Homo sapiens: one gene and its partner. The protein of the gene in region 2 interacts with the protein of the main gene of each other region in a pairwise test. Each region holds a gene or a part of one and is shown on either strand. Other genes may lie near its edges.

The links. Proteins that work in one complex are often made in the same cells at the same time.
Region 1: the proteins of SDCCAG8 (region 2) and CEP131 interact in binary tests that used the Homo sapiens proteins (3 or more experiments, as listed by UniProt).

Annotation. Positions count from the first base shown.
Region 1 is NC_000017.11:81,212,951-81,219,976, forward strand, and holds part of CEP131 (centrosomal protein of 131 kDa), read right to left. Parts: coding exon 6,930-7,026; intron 1-6,929. UniProt on the Homo sapiens protein: Component of centriolar satellites contributing to the building of a complex and dynamic network required to regulate cilia/flagellum formation.
Region 2 is NC_000001.11:243,266,034-243,273,059, forward strand, and holds part of SDCCAG8 (serologically defined colon cancer antigen 8), read left to right. Parts: intron 1-1,587; exon of another isoform or gene 1,588-2,140; intron 2,141-4,058; exon of another isoform or gene 4,059-4,071; coding exon 4,072-4,224; intron 4,225-4,944; coding exon 4,945-5,030; intron 5,031-7,026. UniProt on the Homo sapiens protein: Plays a role in the establishment of cell polarity and epithelial lumen formation. Also plays an essential role in ciliogenesis and subsequent Hedgehog signaling pathway that requires the presence of intact primary cilia for pathway activation.

The DNA of each region.
Region 1 (7,026 bases), on a different chromosome or scaffold from region 2:
CCCAGCTCCCAGACCTTGGTCTCTGAGACCACTCTCCAAGAAAAAGAACCGGGGCTTCTTGAAGAAATGGCTGATTCTAGGACTGGAGGAGGAAATAGACAAGATGAGGCTGGAGCAGTTTATAGGGCCAGAAATAAGGACGTGCTCAGAAGACAAAGTGATGGGCAATGACACAGGGACCCAGGAGCCACCTGAAAGTTCCCAGTGGCCAAAGCTGTGACAATGAGAGCAACAAAATAAGCAAACTAGCATTGAATTATAACTTGAAGTGTAAAATAAATATCCACGAGTCCATTATAATAAATGATTGAAAAAATTAATAAGTGGGGCCAGGTGCAGTGGCTCATGCCTGTAATCCCAGCACTTTGGGAAGCCAAGGCAGGAGGATCACTTGAGGTCAGGAGTTCGAGACCAGCCTGGCCAACATGGTGAAACCCCATCTCTACTGAAATACAAAAATTAGTCAGGTGTGGTGGCACACGCCTGTAGTTCTAGCTACTCAGGAGGCTGAGATAGGAAAATCGCTTGAACCCGGGAGGCGGAGATTGCAGTGAGCCAAGATTATGCCACTGCACTGCAGCCTGGGCGACAGCGTGAGACACTGTCTCAAAAAAAAAAAAAAATTATAAATGAGGGTGAACAGACAAATCTCCTGTGTAGAAGAATTCCAAATAACTTCTATAGATGCTCTTCTCTAAAGGAGGGGGAGCAAAACTCCCCACCCCTTCCATGTGGGCTGAACAAAGCGACTTCCTTCCAGAGAGCACAGGGGATGGGCGACCTCACAGTGGAGAAGCCTGACCCTCCACCTTGGCCAGGGGACCAAGGCCAGCAGCATCACCAGTGAGAGGTCACATGGACAGTGTGGACCCCAGACAGGATGGGGTGAGAAGAGTACTTTACCTCTGTGGCCTTCCTCCTAGAACCCATCCACCACCCAGTCTGATCACGAGAAAAATATCAGGCAAGGGCCAACAGGGGGCCATTCTGTAAAATCCCTGACCAGCTCTCCCCAAAACTCGAAGGTCATCAAAAACAAGGAGAGTCTGAGAAACTCACAGCCCAAACAAGCCTGAGACCCACAGCCCAAAAATCATGTGGGATCCTGGGACAGAAAAGAAAAACTGCAAAAATACAAATCAAGTGTGGACTTTAGTCAGTGATTTACCAATAATGACTTGTTAATTGTACACGTCCCATCATAATGTAAGATATTCAAATAGCAGAGACTGGGTGCGGTACAGGGGAACACCCTGCACTTTCCAATTTTTCTATAAATTTAAAACTATACTAACATAAAAGGTTTATTTTTAAAAATCGTACAGTCACGCCGGAGGCTCACGCCTGTAAGCCCAGCACTTTGGGAGGCCAAGGCGGGCGGATTCACTTGAGGTCAGTAGTTTGAGACCAGCCTGGCCAACATGGTGAAATCCTGTCTCTACTAAAAATACAAAACTTAGCCCGGCATGGTGGCAGGCGCCTGTAATCCCAGCTACTCGGGAGGCTGAGGCAGGAGAATCACTTGAACCCAGGAGACAGAGATTGCGGTGAGGTGAAATCACACCATTGCACTCCAGCCTAGGTGACAGGAGTGAAACTTCATCTCAAAAAAGAAAAAGAAAAAAATAAAATAAAAAGTAAAAAGTAAACTAAAAGGTAGTACAGTCAGATATCTTTTGTTACATATGGATCCTGTAAAGGCCAAAACTGTGCTGCACGTGTGCCAACCAGAGCACGAGGGAGCAGGCCCCGTGGCACCCTGTGATGCGAGTGTGACTTAGGGCAATGATCTTTACGGACAGCAACTTGGCAATGCCTATCAAAAAAAAAAATTTTTTTTGAGACGGAATCTCGCTCTGTCGCCCAGGGTGGAGTGCAGTGGCGCGATCTCGGCTCACTGCAAGTTCCGCCTCCTGGGTTCACGCCATTCTCCTGCCTCAGCCTCCCGAGTAGCCGCGACTACAGGTGCCTGCCACCACGCCCGGCTAATTTTTTTTTTTGTATTTTTAGTAGAGATGGGGTTTCACCGTGTTAGCCAGGATGGTCTCAATCTCCTGGCCTCGTGATCTGCTTGCCTCAACCTCCCAAAGTGCTGGGATTACAGGCATGAGCCACCGCGCCTGGCCAAAAATTTACAATTTAGTTTTAATTTTAATTTTAAAAGATAGAGTCTCACTCTGTTGCCCAGGCTGGAGAGCAGTGGCATGATCATAGCTCACTGCAGCCTCAAACTTTCTGGGTTCAAGCCATCCTCCTGCCCCAGCCTCCCATGTAGCTGGGACTACAGGCATGCACCACCACACTCGGCTAATTTTTTAATTTTTTTGTAGAGACAGGGGTCTCACTATGTTGCCCAGGCTGGTCTCAAACTCCTGGCCTCAAGTGATCCTCCCACCGCAGCCACGCAAAGTGCTGGGATTACAGATATTGGCCACCACTCCCGGCCCCCTTTCAAATTTTTTTATTTATTTAATTTTTTTTGAAATGGAGTCTCGCTGTCACCCAGGCTAGAGTGTGGTGGTGCGATCTTGGCTCACTGCAACCTCCAGCTTCCGGGTTAAATCAGTTCTCCTGCCTTAGCTTCCTGTGTAGCTGGCATTACAGGTGCCTGCCACCACGTCCAGCTATTTTTTCTATTTTTAGTAGAGACGAGGTTTCACCGTGTTGGCCAGGCTGGTCTCGAACTCCTGACCTCAAGCAATCTGCCCACCTCGGCGTCCCAAAGTGCTGGGATTACAGGCACGGGCCACCGCACCTGGCCCCCCTTTCAAAATTTTAAATGGACTTATGCTCTGACCCAGTAGTTATCCTTTAGGATTTATTCTACAGGCGTATTTACATGTATGCAAAATGGCAAAGACACAGGGTATTTGCTGTGCCACTCTTGGTACTATGATAAGGAAAATCCAGAGGAGCACTGGGTGAAGTTCTGGTGCATCATCTGATGAACTATTGTCAGCTGCTACAAAACAATGTAAGGAAAGCGGGAGCAGGGTCAGGTGCAGCGGCCCACACCCGTAATCCCAGCACTTTGGGAGGCCGAGGTGGGAGGATCGCTTCAGCCCAGGAGTTAAGGACCAGCAACCTAGTGAGACCCCTGTCCCTACAAAAAAATTAAAAATTAGTAGGCTGGGTGTGGTGGCTCACACCTGTAATCCCAGCACTTCGGGAGGCTGAGGCAGGAGGATCACCTGAGGTCAAGAGTTCAAGACCAGCCTGACCAACATGGCGAAACCCCGTCGCTACTAAAAATACAAAATTAGCCGGGCATGGTGGTGCATGCCTGTAATCCCAGCTTCTTGGGAGGCAGAGGCAGGAGAATCCCTTGAACCCGGGAGGCAGAGGCTGCAGTGAGCCGAGATCTCACAAATGCACTCCAGCCTGGGCAAAAAGAGCAAAAGTCTGTCTCAAAAGAAAAAAAAAATTAAAAATTAGCTGGGCAGGGTGGTGAGCACCTGTAATCCATGCTACTCAGGATGCTGAGGTAAGAGGATCACTTGTGTCCGGGAGGTGGAGGCTGCAGTAAGCTGTGGTTTCTCCACTGCACTCCAGCCTGGGCAACAGAGCAAGACCCCGTCTTAAAAAGAAAAAGAAAAGAGAATGCAGGAGCCCCACGCAGCTGACGGATACGGCACTTGTTCCAACACATCTCCAGCATCACTGATGCCTGTGTGCCCAGAGTAAGTGTGGGTGCAGGAGAAACAGAACAGTGGCCGCCTAGGAGAGGCCCGCAAGGTCGGGCAGGACAGGCTCACTGCTCAATGAGCCCCCTTTTCCCAAATGGTGGGTGTGAATGGCCTATTCAAAACACATGGTAGGAATTTTGAAATCATCCCCCAAAATGGCACCAGTCATTGCATCAGGGCCATGGGATTATGGGTGCCCTTCATCCTGTCTCCATTTTCCTGGGGTCAGTTTCGCAGCCTCCAAGAGGAAGATAAGGGATGTCAGGGGAGGGATGAAGGGGCTGCCACTCACTGACGGACACCACGGTGGAAAGGCACCACTCATGCTCAGATGGTAAATCAAGTCATGGACTAAAAACCCTAAACTCCACCTGCAAGAAGGAGGCAACATCGCCCAGGGAGGGGCAGGTGGCCCCCATGGCCATGACACATATGCACAGTGATGTCTGTTCCCCAGTGAGCTTGTGCTCTTGGGATTTAAAGACCTCTTTTCTTTAAGGGGAAGGGAACCAGAGTGAATAATGATCTAGGGGGCTAGAGGATCAGGTGGGCACACAGCTGGGGCAAGGAAGAGGGACCCTCTACAGTCTGGCACCGACATCTCTTGAGCCAGAAGACCAGCAGGAACTGCAGTTACATCCTGGATGGGGAATCCCGGGACAGCAGGCCGTGGACGCAGGAAGATCTTTAGAGACAAGGGGTAGAGTGGAAACCCCAGGCCAATGGCCACCGAGAAGGTCTCCGAGCCAGGGGACAGCACCCCACCCCACCCACAAACACCAGGAGGAAGAGAATCACGTGCCGCCTTGTACAGGTGTGAAGCCATGCCTGGCCAAAACAAATGCTCTCCAGGAATCCCGATGAGACTGAGTGGTAGCAGGGCAGGTGGCCGAGAGGATGGGGACCGGGCACAACAGAAACCCCTGAGGTCACGTCACACACTGGCGGGGGTTCCTCTTCCACCAGCAGTTCCCGAGCTCCCACCATGGGCACAACAGAAGGCAGACAGGCATGCAGGGGTGGGGCCGTCTCGGATCGAGCGAGGGCCTCAAAGAATTGAAGTGAACAGCTGGAACATTCCATGAACGAGGGGACTGTTAGCAGTCGCCACTCAACACTGCGGGAGCGGGCAATGGTACCAGCCGAGGAAAGGAGGGATCGATATGAGTAGCGCTCGCTGTGGCTTTGAACCTCTACTCAGCAACAGAACATTTCCCAGCAGAAAGGCTGGGAGTGTGGTTAGGTGCCTGGGTCGGCCGCGGATAGAGCCTGGCCATGCCGCCGAAAGACCATCTACTAGAAAGCCCGGAAACTTTTACAACAGTCTCCACACAACAAGAGAGCTGCAATTTCTTTCTTTCTCCTTCTCCCTCTCCCTCTCCCTCCCCCTCCCCCTCCCTCTTTCTTTCTTTCTTTCTTTTTTTGAGACAGAGTCTTGCTCTTTCGCCCAGGCTGGAGTACAGTGGCATGATCTCGGCTCACTGCAGCCTCCTCCGCCCGGGTTCAAGCAACTCTCCTGTCTCAGCCTCCTGAGTAGCTGGGATTAAGGGTGCGCGCCACCACGCCCGGCTAATTTTTGCATTTTCAGTAGAGGCAGGGTTTCACTATGTTGGCCAGGCTGGTATTGAACTCCTGACCTCAGGTGATCCACCCGCCTCAACCTCCCAAAGTGCTGGGATCACGGGCGTGAGCCACCTCGCCCAGCCCAGATCTGCGATTTCGAGTGCGTCTTCCCCGCCCCATGTGCCATGAACCTAGGGCTTTAGAAACAGCGGGAGGGGCCAAGGCAGGTGGGCGAGGGGGTCAGTGACGCAGGAGCAGGGCTGCGGACAGGAGAGGCAGCAGGCTCAGAGACGGCTCTAGCCCAAGCTGGTTACCCCTCTGCTAAAACAGTGCAGCATATTTTTATTTTCACAGCTTACGTCTGTAAATGCCTAGAGGCGTACCACATCTTTAGACAACCTGCCGGCCACAATGACACATCAGGACATCCCGGGTCCCCGCCCTGCTGGCCCAGGCTTTGGGAACCTGCTTGGTCCAAGGGTCCGCTACTGGCCCGGCTGCCCTTACCCCGGAACTCGGCTAGCCGTCTGGCGGGCCACACCCTGCCCACCTGGGGGTGCTTCTAGGGCAGACACAGGAATAACTTTTTCAAGGAGAAGGGGGAGGTCCAAGCCTTTTATTCACAGTGGAACCCTGGCCTGGGCCTGCCAGGGGTTCCTGTGGGAAGCCTCAACTGCCCTCCAGACCCCTTCTCTCTGCCCTGCTATGTTGCCTGGCACGGACCTCAGGCAGGGAGCCCCAGACCGGCTGCCGCATGGAAGCCAAGGCCCCCAGGCCCTTGCTATTCGGAAGCTCAGGCCAGACTCTGGTCAGGCTCTGCCCCAACCCCCACAGAGCGGCTCGATTCCTCCCTTGCCCCAAAGACTGGGCCTGGCAGACACCAACTCAGGGTGCAGCAGGCCCGGCCTGCCTTTCACAGCCCCCATCTGGGAACCACCCACCCTCCTCCCTACTCCCAGAGGTGGGCAGGAAAGGCAGCTCTCACCCCGAAGCTCCCACGGCTGTCCTGCTGCCCACACACCCACACACCCGTCTAGGTTTCTCCAAGGCCACCAGGAGCTCATCACCCCTCCCCACAGGTCAACCCCATTTCTTTCTTTTTTTTTTTTTTTTGAGATGGCATCTCACTCTGTCGCCAGGCTGGAGTGCAACGGCACGATCTCGGCTCACCGCAACCTCTGCCTCCTGGGTTCGAGCAAATCTCCTGCCTCAGCCTCCCGAGTAGCTAGGATTACAGGCATGCACCACCATGCCCGGCTAATTTTTTTTTGTATCTTTAGTAGAGACGGAGTTTCACCATGTTGGTCAGGCTGGTCTTGAACTGCTGACCTCAGATGACCCGCCTGCCTCGGCCTCCCAAAGTGCTGAGATTACAGGCGTGAGCCACCGAGCCCAGCCAACCCCATTTCCTGAGGATTCAAACAAATCCAAAGGGCGGTGGCACAGGAGGCCTGGGGCTGTTGCTGAAAGAATCCAAGCTCTGGCTTGACTTTCTAGTGATTCAGCACCCACGCCTGTAAGACTCAAGTCCTACCTGCCTCCTGGAACAGCCACGAGGATCCAGCATGTCCAGATGTGAGGCACTTGTTCACCTGTGGAGCTGGACCCAGGGGTCAGATGCCAACTGAACAACAGCCCTCCAGGAGGCAGGGGCCCGGACTCCTAGGCCACAGTACTCACCAGCACCTTCCTCTTCTGCTCGCTGCCTGTGACCACGGAGACAGAGCGGACGATGGGCTTGGTGGTGGCGGCACTGCCAGGACGCCGGGACACAGGC
Region 2 (7,026 bases):
AAAATTTTTTATTGTAAATTGACAATTTATAATTGTATAAATTTATGGGTTACAAAGTGATGTCATAAATTGTGGATACAATGTGGAATAATTAAATAAAGCTAGTTAACATATCCAATACTTCCAATACATTTCTGTGATGAGAACATCAATTTTGAAATGTGTAATACTCCATTATTAAGTATATGCACCACACTGTACAATAGAACTCAAAAAAAGTATAAAACATATTCTTCCTGTCTGAGATTTTGTACCCTTTGACCATCACTGAATTTTTTTTTCTTTTTCTTTTTTTTTTTTTATGAGACAGTCTCACTCTGTCACCCAGCCTGGAATGCAGTGGTGTGATCTCGGCTCACTGCAACCTCCGCCCCCCGGCTTCAAGCAACTCTGTTGCCTCAGCCTCCCCAGCAGCCAGGACCACAGGCACACAACACCACAACCTGCCAACCTTTTTTGTATTTTTAGTACAGATGGGGTTTTGTCACGTTGTTCAGGCTGGTCTTGAACTCTTGACCTCAGGTGATCCACCCACCTTAGCCTCCCAAAGTCCCAGGACCACAGACATGAGCCACTGTGCCTGGACTAAAATTTTTATGAGACAAAATATCAATTTCAAAACAGCATCAAAAAGTGAGTAGGCCAGGCACGGTGGCTCATGCCTGCAATCCCAGCACTTTGGGAGGCCGAGGTGTATTTTTCTGTACTAAAAATACAAAAGTATTTGTCTCTATTATAAATACAAAAAAAAAAAAAGAAATTAGCTGGGCACTGTGGCACATGCCTGCAATCCCAGCCACTCAGGAGGCTGAGGAAGGAGAACCATCTGAACCCTGGAGGCAGAGCCACAGTGAGCTGAGACTGCACTACTTGCACTCCAGCCTGGGCAACAAGAGTGCAACTTCGTCTCAAAAAAAAAAAAAAAAAAATGCTGGGCGCGGTGGCTCACGCTTGTAACCCCAGCACTTTGGGAGGCCGAGGCAGGCGGATCACAAAGTCAGGAGATCGAGACCATCCTCGCTAACACGGTGAAACCCTGTCTGTACTAAAAGTACAAAAATTAGCTGCGCGTGGTGGCGTGTAACTGTAGTCCCAGTTTCTCGGGAGGCTGAGGCAGGAGAATGGCGTGAACCTGAGAGGCGGAGGTTGTAGTGAGTGAAGATCGCACCACTACACTGCAGCCTGGGCGACAGAGCGAGACTCCGTCTTAAAAAAAAAAAAAAGAAATATACATGATAGGAATTCCAGGAATCTTATGGATTCTTCTTTTAAGGTCCCGGTCACTGGGCGTGGTGGCTTACGCCTGTAATCCCAAGACTTTTGGAGGCTGAGACGGGCGGATTTCACCTGAGGTCGGGAGTTTGAGACCAGCCTGACCAACGTGGAGAAACCCCGTCTCTACTAAAAAAAAATACAGAATTAGCCGGGCGTGGTGACAGGTACCTGTAATCCCAGCTATTGGGGAGGCTGAGGCAGGAGAATCGCTTGAACCCGAGAGGCGGAGGGTGCGGTGAGCCGAGATTGCGCCATCGCACTCCAGCCTGGGCGACAAGAGCCAAACTCCCTCTCAAGAAAAAAAAAAAAAAAGTCCCGGTCAACTGTGGGCACAATGTAACACTTACACACACTTAGGCTGAGTTACTCTCTGTACTAAGCAGTCATGTGCATAGGTTCCTGTGTGTGTACATGGTAATTGTTCAAATCTTGGATCCTTGGCGATCCTTAGAGCCACTCAATACTTCTGCCCCAATTTCTCAATTTCAGCCATTACACAATCAGTTATACAAGGGATACACTTGACATGCAGACAGCCCATCATTGACTGCACTAAGTCCAGTTTGGCTTTTATGGAAAAGTTGATAAAGTTGGTATCAACGAGGATGTGGTAAGGTGGGCCCAGCTGTGTATTATATTGGCAAAATAATCAGGAAAGGTGTTGCGGAACTTCTCTTTCCTTTAACGCGCTGGGATCCTTCTTTTCTTTCTCTTTAGGTTTTAATCTATCCTTTTCTTTAAGCCTCTGATCTCTGAGACTAAGCGTTTGCTTCATGGTTGTATAGTTCCTCATTTTCTTTTGCTTCCTCATGGTCACACCACACTCCTGTTTCTTCCGTAATCACCAACGGTGCAATGCTTTTACCTGGAATACATTTTTATGTTAGTCAAACTGTCTCGTTCCTTTCTAATAGATTCAATAAAGATAAGTGTTTTATTCGTGGATTTAAGGGCATAAATCTAAAGCTCCATGAACTGAATTGCTTATCATGTAACACTTTGATTTTCCTTTTCCATGACCAAATCGCTTTTCTATTCTATTTTCTAATACTAAGTTATTGTAAAACTATCACAGTTTCATATATTCCCAAAACCAGGAATGCGTCTTATCTGAACTTCCTTAAACTCATGATGAGTCAGAGGAGGCCAGTTTTCATTAGTAATCAGCGCCAAATTCATTTCAAAGAAAGATCTGTGTGGACATAGGATTGGTATGGAGAAAAATATGGTGATAAATTAACTGTGTCTCTTGTATAGTTGAGTAATAGAATTTCATTGTCGAACCCTGACCTGAAATACATGTTTTCTTTTATCAAAGTAGAAAATGAGTTGCTGCAAGTAAAGAAACTGTATTAGATATTGTATAACAGAGACTTTTTTTTTCTATTAAGTACTAACATTGCTTTTGTTTCTGTTCCAAACTTTGAAATCAGTGCACTTGGACAAAATGGAAACTGCTTTTCAAGGTCCTACAGAATATATGTTTATAAATGTATTTTTATACATGGTTGGTAATGAATCAGGTCTCTTTCGTGCCATTGCAGTTAGAGGGCCTCTGGTGCTGGAGTCCTCTGGAGGACTGGGCTGTCAGAGTGGGGCAGCGGGGTGCAGCGCGGGGAGGGCTTTTCTCTTTCTTCGTGCCTCTGGTGCTGGAGTCCTCTGGAGGACTGGGCTGTCAGAGTGGGGCAGCGGGGTGCAGTGCGGGGAGGGCTTTTCTCTTTCTTCATGGGGTCTCAGGGCCTCTCTCTTCCTCTCCACGTATGCTCTTCACAGGTCTCTCCAGCAGGGTAGTCAGATATCTTACATAGCGGCTTAGGGCTCCCAAAAGCAAACATTCCAAGAGGAAGCAGAAGCTGCCAGTCCTTTTAAAGATGAGGCTTGGGTGTGACATGGTATAACTTTTATTGCATTCTATTGGTTAATGCAGATTACAGGCCCAGTCAGTTTCAGATTAGAAGAGAACAAGGGAATGAGGCTGGGTTCCTTGGAGGCTATTTTTTTTTTTTTTTTTTTCTGAAACAGTCTCGCTCTCTTGCCAGGCTGGAGTGCAGTGGTGCGATCTCGGCTCGCTGCAACCCCTTGGAGGCTATTTTTAGAGATGAACTATCACAGTAATATACCTTAAAATACTTCATTTTAGACAGTTTTTGTGTGTTCTAGGGGTGGTCAGTTGCACTAACCAAGAATCTATGAGGTGTGGTTGGCCAGCAGTATATAGAAAGAGCTGTACCGCCGGGGCTGCCACTATAAGCACTTCAGCTATGCAAATTTTGATCAAAACTAGGCCAGACATGTGGATGTCTCTTGGTGGGGGAGGGATTTCCTGTCCCCAGGGACAATGAGGCTTCCCTAGGTTGGAACTGGGTGTGACGCAGTCCCTTTTGCTGGCTCTTCCCACCTCCCCACTGCTCCTTTCGTCCCCCTCTGTCTCCAAGTTGGTAAAGGAGTCAGGCATGGTGGGAAGGAGAGCACTTCCCTTAGCAAGTTATTGTTTAATGGGAGCTGGTGGGAAGAGTTCTGTCATTTAATCCTTGCCGGTGGTGCTATATGTAGTGAAATCAACTGCTACAGTGGTAGGGGCCTTAGAGATCATCAAGTCCTACCTCTAAACCATGAAGTTAATCTTCTCTCACCATCTTTGGCACATCCCTCAGCAAGCTAGAAACAGAACTCTGCGTTTTTTCCATAAAGTACGAGAAATAATGATTTCACCTTTAAAAACTGCCTTCCTGAGTAAGTGTCCGTTTGGTCAACCAGACTCCATGGGTCCTAACTTTCGTCAGGTTGTTCTTGCAGAACATGCCAGCAGAAGCATTCACCAACTGACATGTGCCCTGAAAGAAGGCGATGTCACTATTGGAGAAGATGCACCAAATCTTTCTTTTAGCACCAGTGTGGGAAATGAGGACGCCAGGACAGCCTGGCCCGAATTACAACAGAGCCATGCTGGTGAGTGTGAATGTCAATCCTAGTCTGAATGATGCATAGTGAATTTTTTAAACTCCGTAGAATAATAACTCCATTCATTCTTCATTCTGCTGCTATGATGTTATTCCTCAAACACAAATCAGATAATTTAATTCCCTCGCTTAATCTTGTTTTCCTTTGACTTCCCAATGCTTATAGGCTAAAGTCCAAAATTCTTAGTTATAAAATAACAGTGTTTTCCTAAGATAGCTCTAACCTGCCTCTTCGGCTCATCTTTGTGTACTTCTCATGCTAATCATCCATCTCACAACTCATATTCTAGTTATAATAACCTCCTCTCTATGCTTTTATGCTTTGACATGTGCAGTGACTTCTAACTGGAATTTTTCTTATCCTTTTCTGCTTGGTGAACTCCTTCCTGTTTATCCTTGCAGTGTTATCTCCTCTGTGAAAACAAGCACAATTAGCTTCTTCCTCTTCTTGTAGCACTGTGCATAGCTTTAGGTCTACATACAAACTTATTTTATATCTATTAGTGTCTCTCTCTTCCTTGCTAGATTCTTAGCTCTTAAGGGGTAGAAATTCTTTTTTTTTTTTTATGTTGGTCTTGTATCCCCAGTTGATAGCAGAATTCTTGATGCATAATATATCAGCAATTTTTATTAGTTGGAAGGATGGATGGGTGGTAAGAAACCATGGATCTCAAATAAGGTTAATAAACCCTCTGCTTTTGCTCTATAGTTAATCAGCTCAAAGATTTGTTGCGCCAACAAGCAGATAAGGAAAGTGAAGTATCTCCGTCAAGAAGAAGAAAAATGTCCCCCTTGGTAAGTATCAACTTTTCCAAGTTGACAAAGCATTCCTGTGTTTTACTGTATTGTGTTATTTTGTAGTACATGTTGCAGAAAAAATTTAAGCATGGCATACTAATAGTGAAAAACATTAAAAGTAATTCTCTTCCCTCTGATTATTTTGGCTGAAAAAATAGATTTCCATGGCAGAGGGAATCTTGATTTTTTAAATTTATTATTCACTTGGAAAATGGGAGCAAGGGAATAGTTTGGAGAATTTATTTTGCAACTGTTAGCAAAATATGTAATATAAATATATAATATATAATAAATTAATATAATAAATTATATGTCAGAATATATGTAAAAGATAAAGTCATTATTTTAGTAATTTCTTTTTTAGAGGGTCATATCTATTATTGATCATTTTTAGAAGTTACTTAATTATAATTGTAGCCCTACTTTGTAATATTTTTTAAATTTTGAGTGTCAAAATAATACATTTTATTTTTAATTAATTAATTAATTTTTTTGAGACAGAGTCTCATTCTGTTGCTCAGGCTAGAGTGCAGTGGCATGATCTCGCCTCACTACAACCTCTGCCTCCCTGGTTCAAGCGATTCTCCTGCCTCAGCCTCCCTAGTATTTGGGTTTACAGATGTGCACTACCACACCAGGCTAATTTTTTGTATTTTTAGTAGAGATGGGGTTTCACCATATTGGCTAGGCTGGTCTCGAACTCTGAACCTCAGGAAATCCATCAGCCTCGGCCTCCCAAAGCACCGGGATTATAGGTGTGAGCCACCGCGCCTGGCCTCAAAATAATACGTTTTAATATGTAATGTTCTATATGTTAAAATATATGGTTATAAAATAGTATGATATATAAGAAGTGGTGCTGTATTTCTTCTGAAGTTGTTTGTTATTGCTTTGACAGAGTGTATTATTTCTGATTAAAGCATTTTATATGCTAAAGGCTGAGATAGATGTGAGTGAAAGCACTCTGGACCAGATTTAAGTGGACAAAATAATAGTCAAGGGCTTAGTTCTATCTAGGGTCTATCACATACTCTCTAAGATATTGTGCCTGTCTCACAGAGTTTTTGGAATAATGAGATAAGATTACATACTTAAAATTCTTTAGAAACCTATGAAGTGTTACATAAACATAACATGCATAGCAGCAAGTAACCACCTCACATTTTCAATGTGTTTTCTAGTTCAATACAATGCCTGTATGCTGAAAAGTGTGGAGACATGTCACTTTCTTTTCTTCACCACTGAAATATCAGAGTATCACTCCCATACGAACACTCCATTCCAGGCTGACACATACTTTTAAGCTTAATTCCTACTTTAGAGAAATGTACTTCATATGCATATTCTAAATTTATAGATACAGATTTTATAATTTTAGTAAAACATCTCATCATTTAATGAATTTATTACTATTGACATCTGGTTTCTAGCTTGCTCTTAAGCACAGACTGGTGGAATGCTTTTAAATCTACTAGATGAAGTTGCTTTATCTGTTGAATGCTCAGACATGCTTATTTGCCTTTTAAAGTCTGAGCAGTGATATTATGGAGCTTACTGAATCCAGACAGGCAGGAAGACCTTCACTAAGAGAATCAGTTTAGTACATACAGAGTGCACTTTAAAATACACAAGTCTATTTATATGGAGCTATGTAAAAGAATGGAACTTAGACTCTATATGTATACAGCCTACATGTAATAATTATAAACCATAATAGTAATAATTAGCTTTTTAAGATTATACCTTTAGAATGCACTTTCATAGCCAGTATAACATATTAGAAATACATGCATATATTGAGAGTAAAACTGAGGCACTGTTGAGATGGAAAAAAAGTTATTACTTATTGTCTTAAAATGTAGATATCTAAACTAAAGCCCTTCAAAGTAGACACAAATGATTTCATGTGAACATTTTTCATACAATATTGGCTTGAGCTTTTTATTTTTCACATTGACTTCCTCCTGTATACTCATAGTAGTAATTTATATTT